Homo sapiens: one gene and its partners. The protein of the gene in region 2 binds, or shares a complex with, the protein of the main gene of each other region. Each region holds a gene or a part of one and is shown on either strand. Other genes may lie near its edges.

Evidence for each region. Proteins that work in one complex are often made in the same cells at the same time.
Region 1: VAMP7 (region 2) and STX4 share a complex: the UniProt entries of both Homo sapiens proteins name them as parts of the SNARE complex.
Region 3: VAMP7 (region 2) and STX18 share a complex: the UniProt entries of both Homo sapiens proteins name them as parts of the SNARE complex.

The regions. Positions count from the first base shown.
Region 1 is NC_000016.10:31,036,526-31,040,664, reverse strand, and holds the end of STX4 (syntaxin-4), read right to left. Parts: intron 2,740-4,139; coding exon 2,631-2,739; intron 2,552-2,630; coding exon 2,475-2,551; exon of another isoform or gene 2,472-2,474; intron 2,156-2,471; coding exon 2,018-2,155; intron 1,125-2,017; coding exon 1,014-1,124; intron 943-1,013; coding exon 862-942; 3' UTR 847-861; intron 754-846; 3' UTR 501-753; downstream 1-500. UniProt on the Homo sapiens protein: Plasma membrane t-SNARE that mediates docking of transport vesicles. Necessary for the translocation of SLC2A4 from intracellular vesicles to the plasma membrane.
Region 2 is NC_000023.11:155,877,148-155,884,361, forward strand, and holds the start of VAMP7 (vesicle-associated membrane protein 7), read left to right. Parts: upstream 1-4,197; 5' UTR 4,198-4,301; intron 4,302-7,214. UniProt on the Homo sapiens protein: Involved in the targeting and/or fusion of transport vesicles to their target membrane during transport of proteins from the early endosome to the lysosome. Required for heterotypic fusion of late endosomes with lysosomes and homotypic lysosomal fusion.
Region 3 is NC_000004.12:4,539,049-4,546,033, reverse strand, and holds the start of STX18 (syntaxin-18), read left to right. Parts: upstream 1-3,985; 5' UTR 3,986-4,069; coding exon 4,070-4,237; intron 4,238-6,985. UniProt on the Homo sapiens protein: Syntaxin that may be involved in targeting and fusion of Golgi-derived retrograde transport vesicles with the ER.

The DNA.
Region 1 (4,139 bases), on a different chromosome or scaffold from region 2:
TCACAGGGCCCGGCCTCCTGTGCTTTCTGACTGGCAACCTCTTCCCCAGCTTAACATCCCACTCCAATGTCATCCCTGCTGAAACCAGACCATCCCTATCCACTGCATCCAAAGTGACAGCCTCAATTAGGCATTTTTTCATGGTGCCTCTTCCTCTGGGCCACAAGAAGGCCCACTGATGCCACCCAAACCCCCATCTCACCTGCGTCCCAGCCTGGCCTGGTCAGCCTCATCATTTCCAAGACAGATACTCACAGTGGTCCTTTCCCGGGGACAGTACTGAGCCAGGAGCTAGATGCCGGTGTTACCCCTCCCTGCCCACCCATTCCTATGGGGGTGCAGAAAGGCAGAACCAGCCTGCTGTGGGCACAGCACCCCTGGCAGTTTGACCTGAGCAGCCAGGGCCAGACCTGGCCCTGGGGACGTCCAGGAGGTAAGGAGGTTGGATGCCCGGAAGCCTTGGGCCAGCCCTTCCAGGAACACACGTGCACAGGGCTTTCTATGCTCTTTTTTTGTTTTTTAATTTTTTACAAAACCGTGTGTCCCGGCCAATCAGGACAGTGCAGGCCTCCCCCAGGCATTGAGGCCTGAAGGAGGAGGCCATCATGAATGAGCAGCTGCCAACCCCAGAAGAACTGTCTGCCCTTCTGCATAGGGGCCAGTGTGAGGAAGGGGTCCGACTGGAGGCTCTGCCCTGCCCCCCAGGCTGCTGGGAGAGAAGGCCAGGCCCTGGGTTCCTGGTGCTCCTAGTGCCTGTAAGGAAAGGAGGGAGAACAGGGTCTGAGGGAGGAGGGAGGGCTGGGGCCAGGGCTGGGGCAGGCCAGGGGGCAGCCCACAACATCTCACCAACAATGTGCGACATTATCCAACCACTGTGACGCCAATGATGACTGCTAGGAGGACGACGGTGATGGACACACAGATGGCAATCAAGACTTTCTTCTGTGGGAGAGGAGGGGGTCAGGGAAGTCACACAGGGTGCCTGGGGCAGTGGCCGGGCCTGGGAGGCTCACCTTCCTCGCCTTCTTCTGGTTCTCCAGGGCCGTCTTGACGTGCTCCTGCCCACGTTCCACGTAGTCCGCTGAGCTCAGGATGTTCTTCTCAATCCGATTGATCATCTCCCCCTGCTCAGAGGATGGGGTGGTTCAGGGAGGTAAGGATGCCTTTGCCCACCCCACCCCAGATGACTGAAGAACATTCCTGGCAGGAAAAAAAAATTGCACTAACAAAGACAAGGGCAAGACTTGATCTGACAAAAGTTCAGACTCCTTGGGGATGGCTTCCAGGCCCCTTCTATCATGTAGTCCCTTGTCCCCTGCTCACTTATCCCATACAACCTCTATCTGCAGTGGTAGCTTGGAGCTAAGGGCCTCAAATGGCTCATACCTTTCACAGATGGTGAACTGTGCCTTCACAAATCTGTCTGAATTTACCCATTCTTCCAGGCCTATCTACAGCTGCTGCAAAGCCCTCCCTATCCCTGCCTCCTCCTGGCACCACCAGCCTCAGGTCTCAGTACTCCTACTGAATGAGATCTCTTTCCTGTAAGTCTCAGCTGCAAAAGGGCATTGGCTGTAGCATGACTGAGGCCAGCTCCTCCAGGACAGGGCTGGAAGCTCAACTCAACTCACAACCAGGGCCAGGGGAACGCCGCCCCCACCCCAGCCTTGTACAGATGTTAGGAGGCAGCCCCTCTAGGGCAACTCTGACTGGACCTCTGAGAGGTATAAGGGTGGATGCTGTTAGTGGAGGGGGAGTGAGGGCTGGGGCCAGACCTGGGCAGGCTCAAGTTTTGGAGAGGGGGCAGGGTGCTATGCAGAAGGGAGTGGGCATCTGTGTAGCAGCAGAGGCAGGTGCCATTCTCGGGGTACAGCTAAGGATAGGAATAAGCACCAATCTGGGGGCATGGCCAAACCTGGAAGACACAAAAGCCTCAGGGAGAGAATCTAAGGGTGGCGGGAGGCTGGCAGTTTGGACTGAGCCTGGTCTCACGTCTGGGGCTGCGCGGGGCACCCACCTGCATCTCCACTTCGGTAGCCAGAAAAGTGAATATGTCGTGCAGCTCACGAATACTGCGTTCAAGCTGCTGGATCTCACTGTGCCGGGCCGAGATCTCATTTAAGGCCTGTCGAGTCACCTGCGTGTCCTTCAGGATCTGGGGGGTGGACAGGAGTGGGGCAACTGTTCACAGGGAGACCGACAGCAGGTCAGAAACTCCTGTTGAGCTTCTGGGGAGCCCTCAGCCTGGAATCTGATGGGTGACTCCAGGCAGGCTAATTAATTCCCTTAGAGGCCTCAGGGTGCCCTTAATCAGAAAGGGCCACAGCAAGCGGGGTGCAGTGGCTTGCACCTATAGTCCCAGCTACTCGGGAGGCTGAGGCAGGAGGATCACCTGAGCCCAGGAGGTCGAGAAACGGACAGGACTCAGAGGGGATGGGAGGCACAGCAGAGAGGGGCTGGCTGTGGCCACTCACATTGGACACAAACACCTCGCTTTGCCCACTGTCCAGCATCTGCTCCAACTCCTCATCAGACACCATCCCAGCATTGGCTGTGAAGGAAAAGGCCAGGCTCAGGGTTGGGTTGGGATTACCTGCCCCTGCGGGCCAGGCTGGGCATGCACAACTCACTGATCTTCAGCTGCCTCCGAATCCGCTCCACGTTCTTCTCCCGGTATTCGGACTGCATTGAATTGCACTTGTTGATGAGCTCCACGAATTGCTGGGACAGGACCCCATGCTAAAGATGAAGAATATAGGCTGAGTGCCCCTGGGAGGATCCCTGCCCGGTCGGTGCCTCGGCAACCCCATAGTACAGTGAGCAAATAGCATGAGCTCTTATGCGGGATCTGCCACCTTAACCACCTTGTGATGACCTTGACAGGCTCCCCCATTTCTCTTAGACTAAAAGCCAAAGCCCTTATCAGGCCTATGTGGTCCTCCATGATCTTTTTTATTTATTTATTTATTTATTTATTTATTTATTTATTTATTATTTGTTTTTTGAGACAGAGTTTCACTCTTGTTGCCCAGGCTGGAGTGCAGTGGCACAATCTCGGCTCACTGCAACCTTGGCCTCCCGGGTTCAAGCAATTCTCTTGCCTCAGCCTCCCGAGTAGCTGGGACTACAGGCACGCGCCACCACGCACGGCTAATTTTTGTATTTTTAGTAGAGATGGGGTTTCACCATGTTGGCCAGGATGGTCTTGATCTCTTGACCTTGTGATCCACCTGCCTCGGCCTCCATTACAGGCGTGAGCCACTGCACCTGGCCTATTTTTATTTTTAATAGAGACAGGGTTGGCCGGGCACGGTGGCTCATGCCTGTGATCCCAGCACTTTGGGAGGCTGAGGCAGGTGGATCACCTGAGGTCAGGAGGTCAAGACCAGCCTGGCCAACGTGGTGAAACCCCATCTCTACTAAAAGTACAGAAATTAGCTTGGTGCAGTGGTGGGCGCCTGTAGTCCCAGCTACTTGGGAGGCTGAAGCAAGAGAATGGCTTGAACCCAGGAGGCGGAGGTTGCAGTGAGCAGAGATGGCACCACTGTACTCCAGCCTGGGCAACAGAGTGAGACCCTGTCTCAAAGGAAAAAAAAAAAAGGGGGGGGGGTCTCACTATATTGCCCAGGCTGGTCTCAAACTCCTGGGCTCAACCAATCCTCCCACCTCAGCCTCCAAAGTGCTGGGATTACAGGCGTGAGCCACGGTGCCTGGCTAGCCCTCTATGATCTCTCCTTCTCCCATGACCTCTCTGATCTTACTTCCTCTTACTGTTCCCTTCCTCTGCCCATCCACACTGGTCTCCTTACCCCTCCCTAGACAAAGCACACTCTCAGCTTAAGCCTTTGCATTCACTTTTCCTTCTACCTAGAATGCTCATTCCCAGCAAACACCTTTAAGTCTCTTGTTCAGATGTTACCTTCTGAATGAAGCTTCCTCCACCTGCTTTCAACTGCAACTCTACCTCCTCCAGCATGCTTAGTCCCTCTTCCCCTGCTCTTTTTTCCTTAATGCTTATTATGTTCTAAATAATTCACTTATTTATTATGGTGATTGTCTACACCAGAAGGGAAGTTCCATGAGGACAGGGATCACTGGTTCACTGCTGTATCCTAAACAGTTCCAAAAAGGTCTGGCAC
Region 2 (7,214 bases):
TTCCATAGGTTTCTTAAATATTAGGAAAAGATAAAAAGACAAGCAGCCAGGGGAGGTGAAATTGGTAACAGAATGAGAGGAGCAAAACATGCTAACTTAGTAAATAAAACACTTGAATAACTTTGCCACATCAGAGCAGGTATTTCTATATCTGCATGCTCACGAGTTTTTAGAAAAGGCTAATGAAACTGCTCTCCAGATGGGAGTTGATGTCAAGTCTTATGGCAAGTGACAATGCTTTTGGCATTATCACAATATCATGTCACTTCACCTAAAAGGTGAAGAATCTACAATAACTCTGTTTGCTGAAGATCTTGAAAGTAGGAAGTGAAATCTGAATAGAGATACCCATGGGGCACATCTACTACACCTCTGTAATCTGCAACCAAACCAGAGGCATTCTCTGACAGAAAAATATTTCTTTGGACAAAAATAAATATATAAAGAGAGTTGGGTCATCAGCCTTCTTTTGCCAGAGTGCTGAGAAGAACAAGAAATTTAAATAATCTATATGAAGAATTTAAAATTTCCTTTATATACACAATTTAACTGTGTGCATATAAAATTAACAAAAATGCACTGATATCTAGCAGGTTGTTTAGGGAATGGCTCCTATAATTAGAGAGAAAAACGGCTTGCCAGAACGTGAACACTCTATTACCAATAGCTGCACATAGTCATTGAAGGTTTAAATCAAACACATCTGTGGCCTTTAAAAAAATTTTTTGCCTGCCAGCACCATGGCTACAAGCAGCTATTAAACTGAGATATAATAAATAATCAAAATGTGGATGCTGGAAGTGCTTGACACATTATGAGAAGCAGTGTTCCTATCACAGATATAAAGAAATGGCATGTTCTTGATGTAATGAGAAATCTTACTACTATGTGGAACACAGACACCTCGGAAGTAATTAGCTGGGGATGGTGGCACGTGCCTGTAGTCCCAGCTACTAGGAAGGTTGAGGCGGGAAGATCGCTTGAGCCCAGGAGTTCAAGGCTGCAGTGAGCTGTGATCGTGCCACTGCACTCCAGCCTAGGCAACAGAGCCAGACCTCATCTCAAAAAAAAAGAAAAAAAGAAAAAAAATAATTATTCACAACTGCTTTGCAAAAGTTCATGTTAGAACCACAGATGGCTCAGATGAACAAAGGAAGATATGTGACGACTCTAACTGGAATAAGCTGCAACCAAAAATATGTCCCATACTCAAATGTCAATTATTTTATAGCTATTGATAATGTGTTAGTTCCCTCTACGGATTGTGAATTTCAAAAGAGAACAGGTATCCTTGATGTAGGTCTGTTTTCAGCATAGTATAAGAGGAAGAAAAGTTGCCTAAGTCCAAACATCCAGGAGAAAAGAAGCATGAACAGCAATGGCAATCAGTGATACACTGCAATCATGTGATTTTGATTCAAAAGCAACAGAATCACTAGATTTGTTTGTAAACCACAAAATAACACATCACGTGAAGCTGGAAGCCATTATCCTCACCAAACTAATGCAGGAACAGAAAATCAAACACTGCATGTTCTCACTTGTAAGTGGGAGCTAAACAATGCGAACACATAGACACAGGGAAGAGAACAACACACACTGGGGCCTGTCGGGGTGGGGTTGGGGGAGGGAGAGCATCAGGAAAAATAGCTAATGCATGCTGGGCTTTAATACCTAGGTGATGGGTTGATAGGTGCAGCAAATTACCATGGCACACATTTACCTGTATAACAAACCTGCACATCCTACACATGTACCCCAGAACTTATAATAAAATAAAAATAAGTAGGATAGAGGACAAACTGCTAAATCTAAGATGCATATTTGCAGCACTGCCTAGCATAGTAATAATTTAGAACATCTGGCAGCCCTTTAAAAGTCAACAGACTGCTTTCATCTCTGTTATCTCATCTGATCGTGCTAGGGCTTGGTGGATAGAATTATCTCCATTTTACAGGGGAGAAAACTAAGGCTCCAAGATTTAGTAACTTACTTCAGTCCCATCAAGGGAGAACTGGATCAGATTCCTGATCCAATTGCCAGGAGGCAAACCCTGATCCAATTGCCAGGATCCAATCTTGATCCAATTGCCAGGAGGCAAATATTTCTGCTGTCCCACTGGAATATAGGGCTTTCCTGGCCTGCCCTTCTAGGGTCTGCATTTGCCAGCCCTAGGATGAACACTTATACAGGAGCTATTTCTAAATGTCTAGATAGCCATGTTTATCAGTGCCCCACCATTCACTATGGTAACCCTAGATGCTGAAAATAACCATATTAAGGAAATTAGCCTGTGTACATTCACTCTCGTCATCATCTTGGTTTTGGTGGGTTTTGGCTGGCTTCTTTACTGCAGTCTGTTTTATCAGCAAGATCTTTATGACCTGTATCTTGTGCTGACCTCCTATCTCATCCTGCGACTTAGAATGCCTTAACTGTCTGGGAATGCAGCCCAGTAGGTCTCAGCCTTATTTTACCCAGCTCCTATTCAAGACAAAGTTGTTCTGGTTCACATACCTCTGACAGGGAGGCCTCAGGAAACTTACAATCATGGTGGAAGGCAAACGGGAAGCAGGCACATCTTACATGGCCAGATAATTACACTACAAATTTTAGGGTATAAATAAGATTACTTTAGGAGAGAATATGGAGTAAGAGGGGGCTTTGCTAGAGTCCTGAAAGCTCTAAAGAGAGGCGATATTTAGAGTTCACACAGCTTAGTAACTCAGATCTCTCTGACTCTAAAACTCATTCTTTTTCTAGGATACTATGCTGCCTCTTAAAGAATAGATATTGAATACAATATAATTAAGTTGATATTAATACCAAATGCGAACCTTTGCAAAGGGGAGATAAAGCAAGGGGAATGATTAAGATCACCAGGAAGAGTGTGAAGAGTAAGAAGAGAAGATGGCATAGGGCAGAACCCTATGGAATGTGAACATTTCTAAAGAAAATGAAGAGCTGCCACAGAGGTGGGAGGAGAACCAGCAGGGTGTAGTTCTTGGAAAGAGCTAACAGAATAAAGGGGTTCAAAAAGGAGGGAATAAGGGCCGTGTGTGGTGGCTCATGCCTGTAATCCCAATACTTTGGAAGACTGAGGCGGGTCGATTATGAGGTCAGGAGTTCGAGACCAGCCTGGCCAATATGGTGAAACCCCGTCTCTACTAAAAATATAAAAAATTAGCTGCCTGTGGTGGCGCACGCCTGTAGTCCCAACTGCTTGGGAGACTGAGGCAGGAGAATCGCTTGAACCCGGGAGACGGAGCTGGCAGTGAGCCGAGATCGCGGCACTGCACTCCAGCCTGGGCAACAGAGTGAGATTCCATCTCAAAAAAAAAAAAAAAAAAAAAAGGAATAATGAAACTAAAGTCCTGCAGAGTTGAAATACGGTAATGGCTTAAAAGTATCTATTTGTTTTAGCAACACTGTTGAGAATTCTGTCTGTAAAGGAGAGGTGAGAGAAAGACCACTAGCTTATCTGTGTTTGGTCTGTGTTTGATGAGGGGGCTTGGGGTATGGGGTTAAGAAAGGTGACTTTGGAATGTTTTAGATGAGAGAAATTTTGACAGCCTTTAAGTCCTGATAGTAAAGAGCGAGTTAGCAGAGAGCCGTTGAGGAGTCATGCAACGGAAGGGTTCATCAGAGGAGCTTGACTCTGAGTCGGCAACAGGGAATAGAGATGGAAGAGGGCTGGCTTAGATCAAAGGAGAGTAGTCGTTTATTATTATTATTATTGCAAAAAGAATAGGAGAAAGGATTGGTGAGGGGTACAAGAAAATTAGAAAATTTCATGGCGAAAGTAGAGGCAGTTCCTGTCAGATGAATTCTATTTTGTCTGTGAGGAAACGGGCGACGCTGCCTACTGAGACTAAGCAGGAGAGACGGGGCAAGCTTGGCTCTTCATTTATGCCGCCTACTCATTGCTGGTAGATTCTTTATCTAGCCTGCATCCTCTCATTTTCCTGGATCCCTATACGGCATTTGACGCTGTTTACCACAAGAGCTGTCGAACGAACGTGAAACACTCAGTGATACTCCAACCGGAACTACTACTCCCAGAATGCAGTACGGCTCCTGGGAAGTGCGGGGGGCTGGGAACGCAGCAGGCCTAGCCGTGTCGCCTGCTGCCATTGGAGGAGCGCTCCCACTCCCAAGAGGCCACGCGTAGACGGGGCGCTTCATGCGGAAGTCAGCGGCGTCCGGTCCCAGCCTCCTCTGGGAGCGGGCAGTTGGCGACCCTGCACTGACCCGCGTCCCTCCGTCCCGAGCCCGCGCGCCCTCAGAGGGTGCCCGGACAGGTAAATGGAGTGGGGTGCGCCTGCGGGAGGCGGGGAGAGAACTGCGGAGGGAGGGCGGAGGTGTCGATGGAAAGGTGCTGGGGTGGAGCGAGGAGGCAGTGCAGGGGTGACTTGGGCTTCTCTGGTGTCGACAGTTCCAGTTGTCGGGCAGGACCAGTTTTGGCGAGGTGCGTCTTATGCCACTGGAAAGGCCTCGAGTTAAAGAGTGTCAGAATGCGTCACTTAAGCTGTCATTACAGGAGGGAAAAAATGTTAACTTTCTCTCAGTTTGTATTCTACAAGACCTTTCTGTAGCATTTAAATCTCTTGAGATCGCCAGAGTCTTCTAAAAACTCTCTACGTCCTTGTTCGATGACGTCACTTTCTGCTTCACCTTCTACTTCTGGCTGTTTATGCTCCTTCGTGGGTTCCTAGCCCCTTATTCGCCCTTCCTCCACTGCTCAGTATTGACAGTCCCCTTCTTCCTCTGTTCAGGGACTGTATTTCTGCCTAGACCCGTTTCCTCAGCTTCAGACCTGTTTGGTGTTTTTATTAATGGCCAATGTTTATCAAATTCTGACTGCGTACTTTGGTAAATGCTTTACATCTCCGTCTCCCATAACTCTCACAACCAACCAACTGTCTTCATTTGGCCTCATTAATTGCTTTCAACTACCTGTATCTCCATTATCCCTCCCTTGATCCCAGAGGATACAGTCATGTTTAGGATATTAATTCCCTTTGAATACCTGTGGCTGAGAGCAGATCCATTCATACATTTAACAAATATTTATTGAACGGCTGGTATATGCTTGACACTCTTTTAAGTGCAGGGGATACAGCTGTAAACAAGACTTAGGAGGTTGCTACTCTCAGGAACTTACATGTTTGTGTCTAGAGGGGAAAACAGGAATAATCAGGATTATGTTATATATTGGTTAATGCAAAATAAAACAGGTGGTTGACTTGAAAGGATGGGATCCTATCCTAAGAAAGTCAGAGGTCAGGGCATCGTCCAGAAAGAATAGTTGTAATACCAACAGGAATAATCTTGATCTGTAACATGACTTTTCGTAAACACCTCTTCTTTTCCCCTGTCTAAGCAGTGTTTATTCTTCATTCTTCTATCTCCTCCAAGGTTATTGCATCAGAATTCATGGTTTATCTGTAGTTGGTTTATTCCTTCTAAGACCCAGAGAGAAGAGTGGGGGATTGGATTACTATTAGCTCAACTGCTTTATCTTACTTAGAAAGATAGTTTGGTTGTGAAAATATTATTCTTACCAGGTCCTTCTGAATATAAAGTTATCTACCATTTATAGTATATTTTAAAACCAAAATATGCTCAATGTTCACTCATTTATTCAACAGATATTTGAGGGAATATTAGATGGTAGGCACTGTGCTGAGCACTGGGAAAATAGGGTAAAATAGACACTTTGACCTCTCTTCCAAGGAGAAATAATCCTAACAGTATACTGAGGAAATTTCTAAGGCATAGGCTGACACCTGCATTCCTGTTCTTCATCCGAGGTGAGATCATCACAAAACATTAAGACATTTCCTGAGCAATTGCGGACATTCTTAGATTATTCACTTATTATACTTTATTGCATTTATTTATATCTGTCTTCCCCATTGTTCTATGGCTCCCTCAAGTATAGGAGTCCCTTCTTCCTTAACTTTATACCTCTAGTGTCTACTTTGACTGTCATATAGTAACCCACCAGTATATACGTGTTGAACTGAAATAGACTCCCTATTTGATCAAATTTAAATGACATGATTTATACAAGGCCTTCTTTATGTAAGGCCATCAGCCGTATTCCTCAACCTTCTCATTCACCAAAGGTGGACCATTCCATCTTATCAGGCTAGCTTATGTACCTTCTTTACCTTGCTCTCAGTGCCTTCTCTTCTTCCATCCATCCCTCCTAAAAGGATCTCCCATCTCTTCCCAAGCACCTTGTGTACCTCCCTCCATTAATTTGGTGGGCCAGTTAATTTAATAATCTGCTCATGATACAGGGGTGGAAAAAAATTAATTTCCTTTTTATATTTCCTATGAAACATTCTGCCAATGAACTCTTGCAAGAATTAATGTAATAGATCCTACTGCAATAATATAATGATACAGAATACTTTTTAAAGATTTTGCATTGACTATCACCATGTGCTATGTAATGAGTTAATTCTACTACTTTATTTGAACAGTTGTATAACCTCTGTTCACACAGCATGTTTTGGTATCATTTGGTTTCTACTTGGTAGAAACACATCTTTTTTTTTTTTTTTTTTTTTGAGACGGAGTCTCACTCCGTTGCCTGGGCTGGAGTGCAGCGGCGCGATCTCGGCTCACTGCAACCTCCGCCTCCCAGGTTCAAGCAATTCTCCTGCCTCAGCCCCCTGAGTAGCTGGGATTACAGGTGCACACCACCACGCCTGACTAATTTTTTTTTGTATTTTTAGTAGAGACGGGATTTCACCATTTTTGGTCAGGCTGGTCTCGAACTCCTGACCTCAGGTGATCCACCTCGGCCTCCCAAAGTGCTGGGATTACAGGCATGAGCCACCATGCCCGGCCAAGAAACACATCTTTGAGTATTACTTTCTCAGCCTGAGGTAATTTAAGTGGTAATGTTATTCTGCCACATTGTCATTTTCAGGATGTCAGATAAAAGCCTCAAGTATTAAAATTAAACTTTTTTTTTTCTTTTGAGACAGAGTTTTGCTCTTGTTACCCAGGCTGGAGTGCAATGGCATGATCTTGGCTCACCTCAGCCTCCACTTCCCGGGTTCAAGCGATTCTCCTGCCTCAGCCTCCCAAGTAGCTGGAATTACAGGCGTGCGCCACCACGCCTGGCTAATTTTGTATTTTTAGTAGAAACGGGGTTTCTCCATGTTGGTCAGGCTGGTCTCGAACTCCTGACCTTG
Region 3 (6,985 bases), on a different chromosome or scaffold from region 2:
GAATAATACTGTTACGATGGTGAGTGGAGAATACATCTAATATTCCTGTTTTGGTAGATACCTAGATATGGGTTGTCATCAATCAGGACAGGCTAATTATGCTGCAGTTAACAAACACCCACAAATCTGTGGACAATTCTCAATCTTAGTACATGTCTGTGATGGTTAATATTGAGTGTCAACTTGACTGAAGGATGCAAAGTATTGTTCCTGGGTGTGTCTGTGAGGGTGTTGCCAAAGGAGATTAACGTTTGAGTCAGTGAACTGGGAAAGGCAGACCCACTCTCAATCTAGGTGGGTACAATCTAATCAGCTGCCAGCATGGCCAGAAGAAAAGCAGGCAGAAGAACATGGAAAGACTAGACTGGCTTAGTCTTCTGGCCTACATCTTTCTCCCGTGCTGGATGCTTCCTGCCCTGGAACATCAGACTCCAAGTTCTTCAGCTTTGGGACTTGGACTGTCTCTCCTTGCTCCTCAGCTTGCAGATGGCCTATTGTGGGACCTCACCTTGTGATCATGTGAGTCAATACTCCTTAATAAGCTCCCCTTTATATATACACCTATCCTATTAGTTCTGTCCCTCTAGAGAACTCTGACTAATACAATGTCCTTGGTTGGCTATGCTCCATGTCATCTTTACTTAAGGACTCAGGCTGATGGAACATTGGAACATTAAGGGTTGTCATAGCAGAGGGAAAAGAGCATCGTGAATCATACATTAGCTCTTAAATTTGCTGCCCAGAAATTACACGTTGGTTTTCACTGGCAGCCTACATCTAGTCTCCTTGCATAGGTGTTGCTGCTGTAGTGAGCTATATTTAGGGGTGCCAATACAGTTGATCCTTGATGACTCCTCCACCCCTCACAGTTGGAAATTTGTGTATAACTTCTGACTCCCTAACATCTTAACTAATAATAGCCTACTGTTGACCAGAATCCTTATCAATAACATAAACAGTCCGTTAACACATATTTTGCATGTCATATGTATTAGATACTGTATTCTTTCAATAAAGTAAGCTAGAGAAAAGAAAATGGTATTAAGAAAATCATAGGAAGAGAAAATATATTTACTATCCATTAAATGGAAGTGGATCATCATAAAGTAAAGGTCTTCATACTCACCATCATCACATCGAGTAGGCTGAGGAGCAGGAGGGGTGGGTCTTGCTGTCTTAGGGATGGCAGAGGCAGAAGGAAGTCCGAGTATTAGTGGCCGCATGCAGTTCAAGCCTGTGCTGTTCAAAAGTCGACTGCGTATTTTTCAGAACAGTGTCTGGCCCACTCAATGTTTGCTGAATGCATAAAGAAAACAAAATTTGTATACTACATCCAACTGGGCAGTTGTGTGCTACCTCCAACAGGCCAGGCATGGTGGCACGCGCCTATAGTCCCAGATACTCAGGAGGCTGAGCCGGGAGGATTGTTTGAGCCCTGGAGTTGCAGTAGTATACTCTCACAACATTTCTGCACATCCTTTTAACCCACATCCCCTCTCAGCTTTATGGGGCTTAATATTAGTCAACTGTCAACTGAAGTCACTTTGCTCTTTTAAATTAAAGAGTAAACACAAAATGTAAAAAGCACAACCCCATATCCCATGGTCTGTGGAAAGTTCAGCAGCCTCCTCAAGATCTTTGTGACTTATTTAGGAATTTTATGTACTTGTGGTCACTTGTGGATTTACAGCCTGATGTTTTGAGCTCACTTGGGTCTTATATCCACCACAATCTTCTCTGCTCTTGCAAATCCAGACAGAAAACTTAGATCTTTGTCCCTACCCTTCTACCCAAAATATCCAACTGCACCAAACACACGGTTTACACAAGGCACCACTCACTGAAGGCTTGGTGTAGTTCAGCCTCCCTCCCACTCAAAGATCCTTCCCAGTTACCTACTTTGTACTTTCCCGGCCCCCTCCCTGGGTTCTGGCTTCTCTTTTCTTCCCCCCAATTCAATCCCCCTCACTTTATTATGCAGGGCAATCTCTCTTTCCTTCTACTCTACCCCAGGCTTAACTTTGCATGGCCAAAAACTGATTAATGTCTGGATTAAACAAAGGGCCATTTATGCAAGATAGAATCATTGGCAGAGATTTTGTAATTTCTTTCTCTTTTCCTCAGTAGGTGGAAGAAAGCTGTATGGAAATTTATTTTCCTTAAACTGCAAGAAGTGGCTACAGTTTGGGTTTAAATAATCTTTTCCTGGCCGGGCGCGGTGGCTCACGCCTGTAATCCCAGCATTTTGGGAGGCTGAGGCAGGCGGATCACGAGGTCAGGAGATCGAGACCATCCTGGCTAACACGGTGAAACCCCATCTCTACTAAAAATACAAAAGAATTAGCCAGGCGTGGCGGTGGGCGCCTGTAGTCCCAGCTACTCGGGAGACTGAGGCAGGAGAATGGCGTGAACCCGGGAGGCGGAGCTTGCTCCAGCCTGGGCGACAGAGCAAGACTCCGCCTCAAAGAAAAAAAAAATCTTTTCCTTCCTCCTTTCTGGTAAATATATACTTTCTTGACATCTATTTCTGATAAACTTTATTTTTTTAACACAGTGGTTCTCAAACTTTTGGTCTCAACTCTTTTGCACACTTAAAAATTATTAAGGGCTCTAAACAATTTTGGTTTATATTGACATTATCGACATTTACTATATGAGAAATCAAAACAAAAACTTGATGTTTTTGAAAGTCTTTTTTTGGAGTCTGGCTTAATAGAAAACAGCTGTTCTGCATTTACTCCGTTGCAATATCACAGTCTCCAGCAAACTCAACTGTATGCAACTCATAAGAAAATCAGAGCGAAAAGGCAAATAACATCTTAGTATTGTGAAAATTTTATCTTGATGACCATTAAAACTGCTGTTTTAATACATATTCTACTTGTGCTTCCTCTTTATGAAAAAAGAAATCTTGAAGAAATCAATGAGATTTTGAATTAAAACTGAACCATAGGCCAGGCACGGTTGCACGTGCCTATAGTCCCAGCTACTCAGGAGGCTGAGTCCGGGAGGATCGTTTGAGCCCTGGCGTTCCAGCTGTAGTGAGCTAGGATGGCGCCTCTGACTAGCCACTGCAATCCAGCCTGGGCAACATAGTAGACCCCCGTCTCAAAAAACAACACAAAACAGAACATGAACCTAAAATGCAGAAGAAACTCATTGATTGAGTTGTCAATTTTAATAGCTATGGCTCAAGACGGTACAATTAAAAACTATGCATGAAGGATGAAGAGAATCCAGCGGCATTAGGGCCACTCTTTCACCTTTGTCTCCATCTAAACTTCCTATTCATCCTTCAAATCTCTGCACAGGTGACGCCTTTTCTCTAAAGCCTCTTCCTTTACCACAAATAACAGTGATTATAATAATAACATTATTAACGATTACTACCATTTATTGGCCACTTACTAGGAGCCAAGCAACATCAAAACACAGCACGCGTCAGCTCACTTAATTTTCACAGTAAACCCCGAGGAGGATGCTGGCTTCACTTTAAAAAGAGGTGACTGAAGGTTGGAGAAGAAAGGCCTCTGGCCTCTAGCTCTGTGCCTTGCACACCTGATCTGTCTCAGCATTTATTGCATCCCGAGGGTCACCGTCCACGTGCCTCTATCCTGCTCAAGGTGAGTTCTTGCAGTCAAAGGTCAAGGGTGGCTCGTCTCCACTTCCCCCGCAACCAAACCGCCCGGTCTCAGTGAGGGAGCCGCCAGAAGGGAAGGAGCCTCCTAGCTTCCCGGTCCTCACGCTCCCGGAGCCCACACGCCCCAAACAGACACAGAAGAGCTCGCTGAGCTCTCCGCGCAGCTAAACCCTCCAAGCTTTGCTGGGAGAAACCGATGCCCGAGAGCGCGTCGCGAGGTTCCTCCTCCGCCAGGTGCGCCGGCTGAGGCCGGAACCTTTTTCCTCCCGCCGCGGTAGCAGGGCGCAGGCCGGAACCTTTCTTCTCGCGTCGCCGTTGCCGGGGGGAGGCGTGTGGGGCAGGACCAGTCCTTCAGCGGCCGGGTTCGCGCCGCGGTCGCCGGCTGCTTACGTGGGCGGGCCTAGTGTGGGGCTGAGGGTGCGGGTCGCTATGGCGGTGGACATCACGCTGCTATTCCGGGCCAGCGTCAAGACCGTGAAGACGCGGAACAAGGCGCTGGGAGTGGCGGTGGGCGGCGGGGTCGATGGCAGCCGGGACGAGCTGTTCCGCCGGAGCCCCCGGCCCAAGGGCGACTTCTCCAGCCGGGCCCGCGAAGTGGTGAGCTGGTTGCTATGGAAACGGCGGGTTGAGGAGGGGGCAGTCCTGCGACAGGGACCCCGGGCCCCAAACCAGACCCCGTCCCGTAAGCATTGTGTGAAGGGGGTGGCTCTAAGGGGGACAGAAGAGTTGGCCTCAGAGACCCTACAGCTTTTTGGGGGAAGGAACAGCCTTATTTTGAGGAAGGGGGACGCATATTGGGGAACAGATTTCTCCTGCGGCGACAGGGATTGGGGGACAAGAAAGGAGATCCTCAGAAATCTCTATCTGGAAAGTGCATGGGCGGCTTTGTGAGGTCATGAGTTCGCCGTCACTACAGACTTGCACTCAGGGGAAACCTCCTGACAGTCCTTCGCTTCCTGTTGCAGCACTGACCACACCATATTTGCCTGTTCTATTTACTTGTCTGCCTCCCACCCCTAGTTGAGATTAAAAACTGTATTCAGCCGAACTCTTTCTTCCCTTTGTCTCTGCAATAAGTAGGACTCAGTTCCTCTTGAGACGGGTTTAGGGTAATCTTTCGCAAACACAGTGTTACAGTCACCTCAACTACTTTCTGTTCCCTGATCAGAGCAGGTGTCCCTTCATCTCCCTGGGAACAGGAACCTTTTCCTTAAGGGCAGGGACAGTGTTGTTTTCATCTCAGAATGCATGACTCATAGCATTGCTTAGTAAATGTTTGTTGAATGAGTGAATGAACAAATGGCTGTCTTTCCCATTAAACAGAAAACTCCATAAGGGGAGAGCTGTTTGTCTTGTTCCCTTTTGTGTTCGTGACACCAAGGAGGTATCTAGGTTTTGTGGGGCCTACAGCTTATATAGTTCTGTCTGCCCTCTTCAAGAAATAAAAATCACCAAGAAAGATTCAGAGCTTTGGAAGATTGAAGAGAGGGACCCTAAAGCTTAAGCCTCATTAATTTCACAGTAAATCCTTCTCTGCTTGGCATACACTTGGCACTGTATAGACACTCAGATATTTTTGAATGAATGTAGTCATGCATGCATTAATGACAGTTAGCAGAGGATACTTAAACATTAGAAAGGGGATTGGACCAGATGAATACACTCGCCCTATTGATGACCGTCTATGAAGCACCTACCTTCTGACCAGCCTCGTGTTAGAGTAATATGATGTAAAAGCAGTGGTGGAGTAGACGGACATAGACATAAAACAAGTGCCATAAAGCCTTGCAGGTGTTGTGTAGGGCACAAAAAGAATGTGGTCAGTTCTACCTGAGGACCAGAAAAGGCTTTATAGAGGCGATGATGCCTAAAACAAATCTTGAAAGAGGATTAGTTGGTTCCAGTGCAGAAGGACATCTCAGGCTAAGAGAATAGTATGCGCTAAGCTGTGGAGGTAGGTAACAGTCTGACATAAGTTGGTTCAATAAACATTTGAGTGAGACTGGAATGTGGGACTCTCATAAAAATTGGACGCGGAGATCTTAAAGGGCTTTGTGTATCATTGCAGAGTTTGAATTTTGCCCTGTAGATGGTCAGATGTTATCTGGTAGAGAAAGCACCAGAGAAGGAGCCAAGAGACGAGGTTGTTGTCTGAACCCTGCAACTATTAGCTATATGATTTCATTAAGCAAGTTTTAAGACCTCAGTTTATTTACCTGTAAATGGTCCTTTTTTTCTCCTCCTCCTTTTAAAAAACTACCTTGGTCCTCTATATGTAACAAATTAAAGTGGGAGCTTCCTAGGTTGAAATAAGAGGAAGAGAAACAGGACACTCTCCCTCCCAGTTTGGCCCAAGCACTTCTTGAGATTCCTTTTGTAGAACTGTGGTATGAATATCACAGTATTGGCTTTTTAAGGGTCCCTTCTAACTCTGAAACCACTGATTTATTAACACTGTGCTAATTTTGAGTCCTGCTCAGGGAAAGGGGGGATTTGGGAATGGTAGAGACAGGAGGCACAGTTGGGTTGGCAAGCCCTTTGGAGAGCCCTGTGATCACTTCCACCTCTCCCTGAGTGGTGAAAATGTGTTTGAGTTTTGAGTTAATGGGCCTCAGGGACAGTAACAGTCCCATAGGGTGCTGAGTTCCCTGTCACTGGAAGTGATTAAACAGAGTGATGACTGCTTTTCAGAGATGTTTGAGAAAAGCTTTGTGCATATGTCACAGGGTTGGACCGCATGACAATGCAACTTGCAGTTCTGCTATGTATTGATGTGAGTAGGTGTCACATCACCTTAAGTGAGTTCATGGGCTGTGTTGTTCAGGGACACTGTCCCCCTGACGTAGAGGAAACATACATTCTTTTAAGCAATTTTGATTTTATGTTGTCATTGCTTTGTGTATTATCTCCTGTTCTTGCAACCGTTCCCCACTCCCCATCTTCTCTTGTGGGAAGTTTAACTAGAAGAGCTAGTGATGGATGTCCTGTGCTTTTACTACAATTAGATGTCAAAAGTTTGGCTGTTATTTTGTTTGGCCTGGATTCCTTATAGAGAAAAGTCTGGTAAATACCAGAAGCACATATTCTAATTCAGGTTTAGCCCTGGTTGTCAGACTTAATGAAATGTAATAAGTTATAGTATGCCTTTTGGTAAGTGCCTTCCTTGAAGCATTTGCTGTTACTTCTAGGATGCGTTTTATCTGGTTCAATTTCTATTCTTCCATTCCATTCCTCAAATATATGCCTGATGCCAGATTTCCATCTCACTGAATTGTTGTAGAGGTTATATTAAGTTGAATAAAATTGCATTGAAACTGCAATTTTATTGCAGTCCCTACCTTCCAA